Linked DNA regions of Homo sapiens. The protein of the gene in region 2 interacts with the protein of the main gene of each other region in a pairwise test. Each region holds a gene or a part of one and is shown on either strand. Other genes may lie near its edges.

Evidence for each region.
Region 1: the proteins of MUC15 (region 2) and SH3GLB1 interact in binary tests that used the Homo sapiens proteins (3 or more experiments, as listed by UniProt).
Region 3: the proteins of MUC15 (region 2) and LAMP2 interact in binary tests that used the Homo sapiens proteins (3 or more experiments, as listed by UniProt).

The regions. Positions count from the first base shown.
Region 1 is NC_000001.11:86,714,576-86,718,333, reverse strand, and holds part of SH3GLB1 (endophilin-B1), read right to left. Parts: intron 2,611-3,758; coding exon 2,469-2,610; intron 1-2,468. UniProt on the Homo sapiens protein: May be required for normal outer mitochondrial membrane dynamics. Required for coatomer-mediated retrograde transport in certain cells. May recruit other proteins to membranes with high curvature. May promote membrane fusion.
Region 2 is NC_000011.10:26,565,606-26,569,363, reverse strand, and holds part of MUC15 (mucin-15), read left to right. Parts: intron 1-2,224; 5' UTR 2,225-2,269; coding exon 2,270-2,312; intron 2,313-3,467; coding exon 3,468-3,758. UniProt on the Homo sapiens protein: May play a role in the cell adhesion to the extracellular matrix.
Region 3 is NC_000023.11:120,427,539-120,431,296, forward strand, and holds part of LAMP2 (lysosome-associated membrane glycoprotein 2 isoform A precursor), read right to left. Parts: 3' UTR 1,089-3,758; coding exon of another isoform or gene 946-1,088; 3' UTR 1-945. UniProt on the Homo sapiens protein: Lysosomal membrane glycoprotein which plays an important role in lysosome biogenesis, lysosomal pH regulation and autophagy.

The DNA.
Region 1 (3,758 bases), on a different chromosome or scaffold from region 2:
TGGTACATGCCTGTAATCCCAGCACTTTGGGAGGCCAAGGCAGGTAGACCACTTGATGTCAGGAGTTTGAGACCAGCCTGGCTGACATGGTGAAACCCCGTCTCTACTAAAAAAAAAAATACAAAAATTAGCTAGGTGTGGTAGCGCATGCCTGTAATCCCAACTACTCGGGAAGCTGAGGCAGGACAATCACTTGAACCCAGGAGGCAGATCTTGCAGTAAGCAGAGATTGTGCCACTGCACTCCAGCCCAGGTGAAAGAGTGAGACTCTGTCTCAAAAAAAAAAAAAAACAGCTTTGTGTTTTGACTCTGATTCTTAATTTTGACTGCTTTTCCACCTATCTGGCCAAAAGTTTAAAATGGAATCTTATGCTGACTTCGTTCAGTTAATAAAATATTTGGAATACTAATAAATGTTTAATTTCAATAGGTTATAATAAAATCTTAAATATGCAGGCAACTCTGCTACAATGTAATATGTATTTCTGCATAACGTATTTTTGAAAAACCCATTTCCAGAAGATCATACATTGAAAACAACATAGGAATTACAAGAAAAGGAGTGTTAGGTTTGGCTGCTCAAAACCTATGTAACTTAATAACCAGAGCACAGGCTGGGCATGGTGGCTCACACGTGTAATCCCAGCGCTTTGGGAGGCTGAGGCGGGCAGATTACCTGAGGTCGGGAGTTCGAGACCAGCCTGGCCAACATGGAGAAACCCTGTCTCTACTAAAAATACAAAAATTAGCCGGGTATGGTGGTGGACACCTGTAATCCCAGCTACTCTCAGCAGGCAGAGGCAGGAAAATCGCTTGAACCCAGGAGGTGGAGGTTGCAGTGAACCAAGATCACACCACTGCACTCCAGCCTGGGTGACACAGCAAGACTCTGTCTCAAACAAAACAAAACAAAACAAAACAAAAAAACCACAGCACAAACAAAAAACAAAAACAATTATTACGACTTCCTGGCACAAAACAGGGGCAGGAGGAAATTGTATTTTATTTCCCTGTTTACCAGTTGTGAATGAGCTTATTTCCCATTCAGAAAAATATGTTTAGAACAAGGGGAAAAATGTCTATTACTTTTAATAAAAGTGCCAGAGTGTAGAATTTAAATGGCCTTAAATGAATAAAAAATATTACATGGTGTCCAAAGACATTAGGACTCACTCAAAGTGCAAAAAGCTTATTTTATTTCCAACTTTTATTTTAGTTCAAGGAGTACACATGCAGATTTGCTACCTGGGTATACTGAATGATGCTGAAGTTTGGGGTACACATGAACCTGTTACCCAGGTACTGAGCACAGAACTCAACAGTTAAGTTTTTCAACCAAAAGGTGTATTTAAAAAGTCACTACTATTTAACTAAAATGATAGAGAACTGCTAATATTTATATAGTGCTTGAAGTTTAAGTTAGTATCTAAAAGTAAGCATATGTCATATCACAACTTGGTCCCAAACAAGTTGGGGAAAAAAGAAGGAAAGCATACATTGTACCTTTGTTCTTCAGTTTTGATATGCAAAGCTCACAGTGAAAAGACTGGATGTTCATACACCCGGTTCTAGTCCAATTTCCACTTCTAATTAGCTATGCTACATTTGACAAGATGCTAACTCATGAGTTTCATTCACTAAACAATTATGCACCTTAACTGCAAGATTATTGAGTTGACTTATCTGAAAATCTCATAGTTGTCTGAAGATGAAATGAAATAATTTATGTGAAAATGTAAAACTTAAACATAGGCGGGGCGCAGTGGCTTATGGCTGTCATCCCAGTACTTTGGGAGGCCGAGGCAGGTGGATCACGAGGTCAGGAGTTCGAGACTAGGCTGGACAACATGGTGAAACCCTATCTCTACTAAAGACACACACACAAAAAAAAATTAGCTGGGCGTGGTGGCACATGCCTGTAATCCCAGCTACTTGGGAGGCTGAGGCAGAAGAATTGCTTCAACCTGGGAGGTGGAGGTTGCAGTGAGCCAAGATCACACCATTGCACTCCAGCATGGGCGACAGGGCGAGACTCTGTCTCAAAAAACAAACAAACAAACAAACAAACAAACAAAAAAACACACCAAAAACTTAAACATAAAAAATGGTACCTACTTAAGCAACTATATAACTTTGTCTTAATTATCTAGGGACAATTCTTCCCTAGATGAAAAAGGAAAACATATTTATATACACAGCTGCTCATAAATTAAAATTCAAAGTCACTGCCTAAAATTGAGATTTTTTACAAGGATTCTATAAAAGACTGAAAAATATCATTTTAAAATTGGTTAGGTACATAGCTGTTTATCACTTCCTCTTCACAAAAGCACACACAAAAAAACCCACTGACCTTGAAGCTACAATAAAAAAATCCTATGTTTTCAGATGGCCATTAAAACTTTTTTTTTTAACATTTAAAAACCCACTAATAGTACTTAAGGTACACAAGAGGTAGAGTTTCTTACTTGGATTTGGCTGCAATAACACTTCAGTTTGTTTCATTATTTTTTCTGTCCATATTTTGGTACATTCAGCTTTGCTAAGGAGGTTCTCTAAGTGAGCATCCAATTCTGTCTTCTCAGCCTGGCCAAGCTTTTCTTCTGTGAACTGTTATTGATTGTAAAACAAAAATTAAATATACTGCAAATAAATTTTAGGGAACCATATCAATAAGTAAAAAGCAAATTCAAAGCTAAACAATCCTAAACATACAAATAACCATGCTCCAGCTTTGTAAGCCATTGCTTATGAATACTTTTTTTTGCTCCTATGGTAATTTATCCATACTTCTTTTGTGGATGACCCTACCTTACAGTCATCACATACCCTTAGTTCTGCTAAAATGTATGGTGTGAATTCTACAGAAAACCTAAGTATACTTCTTGGTATATAAAGCATGCAACTATTTCAACTACCTATCCTAGGTAGACTAGGATAACGGTAAAGAGTAAGAGCTTTGAGTCAGTTGAATCTGAATTCAAATCTTAACTTTGTTCCTTGCTGTGTGAGCTGAGCAATGTATTGAATATTTTTTCTTTAGTACCCTCTATTATAAAAGAGAGACAATACATATTTTATAGTGTTTGGGGGATTAAGTATGATTGTGTATGCAAATCACTTTGTTTGGTGCCTTGTAATTATTAAGTTTTGAAAGAGCTGTTAATGTTTATTGTGGTTTATGTCTTATTAGCACTTTAATCACACCTAGTTAGATAAATAGTTTCCCAGAACATACCATAAAACCTGTCATTTAAGCTGCTGAGGATATGTTCCAGCAATTTATTTATAGACTAACTTTTGGAACATATCCTATTCATACTATGAAGACATCTTTTAAAGGTCATAAAATGTGGTTAAACGTACTCAATGAATCAATTTTTATTATTGAATATACTGGTATTTGAGAAAAGGTAGCACTGCCTATATAATAATAAAGCAGTAAAAAGATTCTGTGTAGATCTACAGCCTTCTGGATACTTTTAATTAAACATTAGAGGTGATGACTCAAGCTGTTTATCATGCATCATTTTCCTCTAGAATATGTGGCTTCCTCCCATCTTAACACAGGTATATCACTAGCATTAATTCTGTGCTCAGTAATGACTCACTTCTGGCTGACAAAACAGTGTTCACCTTGCCTTTCTCTCCTTTCGTTTCTCAAAAATCTCGTTTGCTACTCTATTTTCTGAGTTTTATTGTTTCTTTCAGCATCCTTCTTCTTGGTTTAATACTTTCAGGTTATTATCAACACCTTA
Region 2 (3,758 bases):
ATTTCTGAATAAACCATAAATATTTAATAGTATTCACAACATACTGAACTACCCCTCTCTTCCATTTCTCTCCTTTTCCTGGGAGATAAATTATAGGCAGTAACAGAGTGCTTCGCACGTTTGGGGGTGTTGATACCCTAGGTTTTCAAGTTACAATCAAAAGCTGGGTAAAGGAATGAGAGATCCCCTTGGTGGTTCAATGTCACAGGCAAGGTGAAACAGGAACAACAGAATTCACTTTATTGACTCTTGATGTGTAGATTTTCATTACAGGCAGGTAATGAAAGCTCAATGCCATGTCTCTCACATAATATTATAAGAAAAATAGAAGAACAGCTAAGGACATTTTTCCCCCCACTGGTGACCACTTTATTAGGAAGAGAAAAATAGCAAAACAACTAGATATAGAGAAAATAAATCGAATGCCATAATAATGCTGAAAATAGTGGCTAAGTACAATTGACAAATTAGATCACATGCCGTAGATAATGAAAAGGAGCATTATGTTTGCTGTGAACTTTGCAGAGTTCACAGGAGAGAGATGTTTCTGAAAAGGTACACATAACTATTTTTAAACTAAACTGAATTATATTTTAAACACACTAGGTGAGGCATCAATTTAAGTAAATATTGGTCAACTACAGGTGCCAGAGATAATCATTCATGCTTTGTAAATGCTAATCTGTAAACTTCATGGTAAAGATGTCCATCTAGAAACCATAATAGACAGTTATCGTGATTTTCTTAAATTACAGCAAAAGCATATTTAGTGTATTTAATGGGTCCTTTGAAGATAGAAAGACTTATATTATCAGTGTTTTGTAAAAATGGGATTATAAACTGCTCTGGTTAAAATAATTAAATTTGGAGAGGCTGTATTAAAAAAAAAAACTATGGTAGGAAGAAGTTCTAAAAAGCAGCTGTGTACCAAATTCTATATTCCTTTGCAACTTATGTTACAAACATGAATACTGACTAGCTTTAAATCAGACATGTCAAGGTTTGAATCCAAATCCGATCTCTCAGTTACTAGCTGTGTGTCCTTGGACACATTACTTACATTATTTATGTCCCACTTAATCATCTGTAAAGTGGGATTAATAAGCCCTTCTTCACCATTTGTTTATTTTTGGTTAGCATTAAATGGAAAATATGTAAAGCAGCTGATATATCAAATGCATAATAGTAATATACTTTCCAATTATGTTAAACATTTTTAGAACAATCTGAATTTCTTAGTTGTCACAGAAAAGTGAATGAAATATCAATAAGCAGAATGATCACAAATACAAACACCTATGTAATCACAATCAGGTTGAGAAATAGAGTATCACCAGCACACAACCTCCTTCCATGCTCCACCCAATCAATTCTGTTTACTTCCAGTAATAAAGCCCTTTCCCAATCGTATCATTGTAGCTTTTTGCCTGTTTTTGAACTTTATATACATGAAATCACACAATACAACTGGTGTTTCAAGCAGTGCATTATGTTTGTGATAATCATCCATGTCGTTGCATACAGCTCTAGCCTGTCAATTTTCACTATCTGAATATACCACAGTTTATTATCCAATCTGTTACTAATGAACACTTAGGTTTGAGGCTCTTATAAATAATGCCGCTATGAATGTTCTCATATGTCTGCCAGCTTTTATTTTTAAGTAGATTTTTCTTAAGTGATAACCATAGGGCATGGAAGATACAATATGTCTAAAATTCTAGAAGTATATGATTATGCAATTGCTTGCTAAAAGCTTTTGAAGAGAAGTATCAGATTTTGAAGATAACTAACATATATTATAGATATATTTACGTTGTACCACATGTGAGAAATTATTATGTAAGAGAGGACTTGCTATTTAAAATCAACACATAACTAGTGGGAGTGTTTAGAAGCTCTGTAGACCCTAATGAAAAATCAACAAGGCTGAAAATATTTGTAAAAATTTCAGAGAGCTGTTGAGAAATGGCACACAATACAAGAACTAAGTAACAGCACTTGTACCTCCTCCCTTTTCCTCTCTCAGTCAGCATGGAGGCTTTCAGTGAAAAATAAGGTTCAATTCAAAAACATGAAATCAGTACTCAGATTTTATTGCTTGAGGAAAAAAAAGTCTATTTTTTTAAAGTAAATTTTCCATTAAAAGCACTGCAAATTTTAGCCTCTAATGAGATTGGAGTCAGTTGACTTGGCTTTAAATATTGCCTCTTCCATTTTCCAGCTTCTGTTACTAGCCATTGTGAGCTTCAGTTTCTTCATCTGCAAAATGGGCATAATACAATCTATTCTTGCCACATCAAGGGATTGTTGTAAGTATCAAATAAGATGATACTGTAAACTTTGTAACCAAAAAGACACTATAGATATATTATTATATTTGAATATTAAATGGAGGTTAGCATCTATTAAGTGTTTACTTTAGGCTAGATCTTGTTTAGAGTGCTGCTACCTAAGTCAGCCCATTCAGTCTTCAGAACAACACTCTGAAGTTAATTATAATGATGATAAAGCAACTGCTTATTATGGTGATTATTTTTCATGAGTTATTTGTGTCAGAAGCCAGAATTTTAATATAAATCTGATTTCAAAACATTTTCCTATATCACCCTATTTATGAATTGTGGCACTTCCACACTTAAGAGGCGGAATGATGTGCCTGGATTGGAGATCAGGACCCAATCTGCAATTATCTAGCTTATTTTCCCACACACACCCCAACCATATTCTTCTTTTATAAAATAAGAGAGTAAGATTAAAGAATATCCTTAAATCTAGAAGGCTTCTGAATCTCCCCAGTTTGGGATTAAGTAGCAAGAAGGACATCATGAAATGAAAAGTATTGTGGAAAAGGGATACATTCAAATTCATGAGTTATTTCATGACTAGTATTAATTCAAACTAGATACTAATAAAATGTATTCAAGGGTATTCCTGACTGACTCACTTTAAAAAAATCTAATATATGGTGCATTTAATGTATAGTCAGTAATGTCATTTTCATAATAAATATTTCAAATGACATCTTTATAAAGAATGCGTTTTCTTAAATAGATTGAAGAAATCAGCCAGCTCTACATGGTCTATATTTACAATATTTTTAAAATGTTATTTAACAGTTCATATACATGTTTTAAATATACGTGTATGTGTGAGTGGGTGGGTTTTTATGGTTTTCTTCCACCTTTTCCCAAGCTAAATGGTCTTTGAAATAGCAGTGTGTGGCTTGAGGAAGTTTTTGCATGGCATTTCCCTAGAAGCAAGGAAGGAAGAAAGATTACGTGGAAAGCAGTACTCAATGGCACTAATTTAAGTACATAATCCAAAATAAGCAATTTTGGAATAAAAATATGATATTACCATCTCTATATTATGTCTAGATTTTTATCACTTTAAAATATATAGATCCATTTAAAAACTCAGAGTATTTTATTTAAGGAATTCAAATTATGGTTATTTTCTTTCAGATTCCTTTAAAAAAAAACCAATACCAAAGAAGCCTACAATGTTGGCCTTAGCCAAAATTCTGTTGATTTCAACGTTGTTTTATTCACTTCTATCGGGGAGCCATGGAAAAGAAAATCAAGACATAAACACAACACAGAACATTGCAGAAGTTTTTAAAACAATGGAAAATAAACCTATTTCTTTGGAAAGTGAAGCAAACTTAAACTCAGATAAAGAAAATATAACCACCTCAAATCTCAAGGCGAGTCATTCCCCTCCTTTGAATCTACCCAACAACAGCCACGGAATAA
Region 3 (3,758 bases), on a different chromosome or scaffold from region 2:
GCACTTGTTGCTGTGAGAAAAAAGAAATCAATATATTAAAAATATCAACTAGAGCATATTCACATAGGGAATGGGAGAGTGCAGGAGGCACACAAACAAAGTATATAGAGTTTTTGTTTTCAGTGCAGGATAAATGAACCTTCTTAACAAGTTAAGGCTCTGAGGGAAAAAAACTTTCTAAACCATAACCTTAATAAACCATAACCCATACAGGTGTTCCAAATCAACACCTTTTTTAAAAAAAGCTGGAGGTCTTACTTCATCCTTCAGTATAAATGTCAAGTCTGAGATAATCAGTATATTCCAAACTCTAGAACAACAACAACAAAAAAAGAAATCTCCTTGTTAAAATATAGTAGCTATTAACAGTAATGAAGAAGACAGCCAAACTTTTGCTATTAAATACAATATCATGAAGCCATTTCTTTCTTAACTAACAGAAAAATACAGATTTAAATAATGCTGATCAGGAGGTGGGGAAAGGAAGTCTTATCATGAACCAAATTTCGTGTCTGCCACCAATGAAAATGAATCCACTATGTTCTTGAATTTATTTCCTGAAGCAAGTTAAATTCTTTAACACCTTTGATTTTGCAAATAACATCAAAGTAGTAAAATATAAGTAACTGTAACATATAAAATTACACATCAGCAAAAATGCTTTCATAATTGGATCCAGGGGCTTAAAATCATTATTTACTTAAAAAATTCTAAGCCACAATTTTTCTTTTAATTATACTTTAACAAAGGAAGAAAAAAAACAGAAAAAAATTGGTCCTAATATATTTTGTCTTAAATAAGTGTACTCATGCCCAAGTTAGCTAGGAACTCACTGAAGTTAGTCTGCATATCTTAAACAATCTATTGCACAGCATGTCCTGGCTTTTAGCCAATGGAAACGTAACTTCTAATTGAAAAAAACAAACAAACACTAGATTTAACTGATTACACAGACTGATAACCAGTACGACTTTTCCTTCTTCCAATCATATAAGAGATAAAGACAACAATTATAAGGAAGCCCAAGGCCACACCCACTGCAACAGGAATAAGAAAGTTGAGGTCAGAGTCAGCAGAACATTCTTCAGCTGTTAGAAAAGAACAGACAGCAAGGAAAGGAAATTAGCAAAGAATGCAATTAAGTAGTAAAAAGCATGCAAGAAACATGCATTTTGAAAGTGTACATAGCTTAGTTTTTTATAGCATTACCTCTATTTTCTTATTTGCTCAATATCTCATTATCACTTTATCTAAAATCACACGAAATTCCTCAGTACGAAAAGCAGAAGGTAAGGGAAGAATGGGAAGGGTCCAAAATAGAGAATTGCGCTTGCCTAATATGGGAAGACTTTAGGTTTGATTATCTAATGACACTGGGTTAAGGAGCCATCATCTACACTTAAAACCACTGCCTGTGTATTTCCCTACTCTCTTTCTCTTCGTCACACCTATAATTAAAGTATAAATAAGAATTCTGTATAAGTAATAAAATTTAAGTTAAAAAAGACTTAGGATCAAGAATGTAGTATATATATACATATATATGTGTGTGTATATATATGTGTATATATATGTATATGTGTATATATATGTGTGTGTGTATATATATGTGTGTGTGTGTACATATATATATATATACACACACACACAATTATTTTTAGCTGAGCGGTGGCCTGGAAGAATAACAGCAGTATCTAATGCGTTGCAGTCCATTCCACCGAACCACCAGGAAAGCAACATGTGCAATGTAGATTTTGAGTTCTGGATTCAGACAGAACTGTGTTTAAATCTTGACTCCTTCCAGTACTAGCCAAAGGACCTTGGGCAAGTTATTTAAACTGGGCCTCACTTTCCTCATCTGTAAGAAGGGGATAATAATACCTATAAGGTATTTGAGGATTAAATACAATTACATTTCTAAAGCATCTGATACACATCAAGAGGTCAACAAGTATTCATTCTCTTCTCTTTTCCTCTTATGCTCATGATCCCATCTGAGGAGGATTAGGTTTTGAAGTAGCAAACAGAGATTAAAATAGAAGTGTTTTGGTATATTACTACTGAAAAAGCCCATATTAGTATTAAAAAAAAAACTTAAGCAAAACATAGTACGGAAGCCCAAAGTGCCCAATTCTGATCTCATAATTTCAAGTGTAAACCAGCTGTTGTTTTACTGTTGAGTGACTAGATTTCATTAGGGGCAATTTTTATCAAAATGCTAGTAATAGTTTTGTTGCCCACTTGATATGGAACCTCAATGAATTTCACTCCCCTTTCTGTAAATAATCGTTAAGGTCCTTTCCAGTAATAGCTAATGAAATTAACAAAATGTGTTATCTGGTGTGATTTATGATTAAGCAATAACTTGTACTTTTCTTCTAATTTTAACTTTTCCTCCTCTTGTACTTTTACCATTCATAAAAATGTTGCTACGGTTCTGAGTACACAACACTCATCTCAGTAACCACACATTAGCCTATGCTGAAAGAATTTACTATATTTTACTGAAAGCTCTCAAAGACTGACAGCTGGGTAACAAGATACACTGTATTGTTAATCAGGAAGTTATAGAGACTCTGATCATGCCCCTATATACATACAATGGGTTAATAATACTTCAATGTGGAAGTCTTCTAGTCTATTAAGCCTTCCTTCTTTATCTATGTTTCATGTCTGTGCTACTCTTATACCATGGAATATGCTTCAACAAGGGCTGATTATCTAGCTCATTTTAATGCCAACAGCTTCTCTTTACACCCCCATCTATGCACTGCCCCACAGGGGCCATCTTGAAGAAACAAGAGCCTAGTTGCTATGCTTCACTGCCTCCCTTCTGAGATTGCTGTTAGCTTACATTTCATAAGTACCACACTGATGACAACACTAAATAGATTTTAATGCTCCAGAGATCAACAAGATGAGGTAGAGAAACACAACACAATCTGTCCTAATTAGTTCATAGAATATTTCTATCTTTCAATACTAATCAGGCATCCAAAGAAGAACAAAACAAGAAACAAAAAAGCAAGTGGCTAAATATGCTTGGATCTTTTCAGTCTATATTGCTGAAAAACAAACAATTATCTTAAAAACTCTAATTACGAAGCCAGTTTAAGTTCTGTTGTAGCCTCTTGGGTCTGTATCATCCCTAGGGAAAAATCACAGGCTTGAGGTACTAACTTCATGCTTAACTTGAACTCAGAGAAATCAGCAAAAGTCACATAACCTTTAAAATGCTGATGGTCCTGAGGACATTCTCTACTTCATTCAACTGAAAACCAAGTTTAAGCATATCTGATGGGCATTTATACCACATCAATATTTATTTAATGAACTTTATGCAAAGGCACATTGATGAGTTTAAATCACTATAGTCCTTATACATTGAAACAGAACACCAGTAGTGAAATGACATTTATTAATTCCATTAAGACACAACTACATATTTTATTCTTATAATGGCCATGTTAATAAGTTCAAGGCATACTTCAAGGTTAGGATCAAAATTTGGCCAGGGCTTCTTAAGATAGACCTTAAAACATTGCACGTTGATGTTCTTTTGAACAAGTTTGTCTCCAGGACCAGTAAATATGACACTTTGGATTTTAAGCTGATTAAAGAGAACAGGTTTTATTAATAAAGACTGATCTCAAAATGCTGGGATTGATAAAAGAATTAAAGTTTCAACATATCAATTTTAAGAAGCAAAGTGTTTCAACAACTGAGAGGTAAGAAAATCTTGTTATTTGCATGTATTT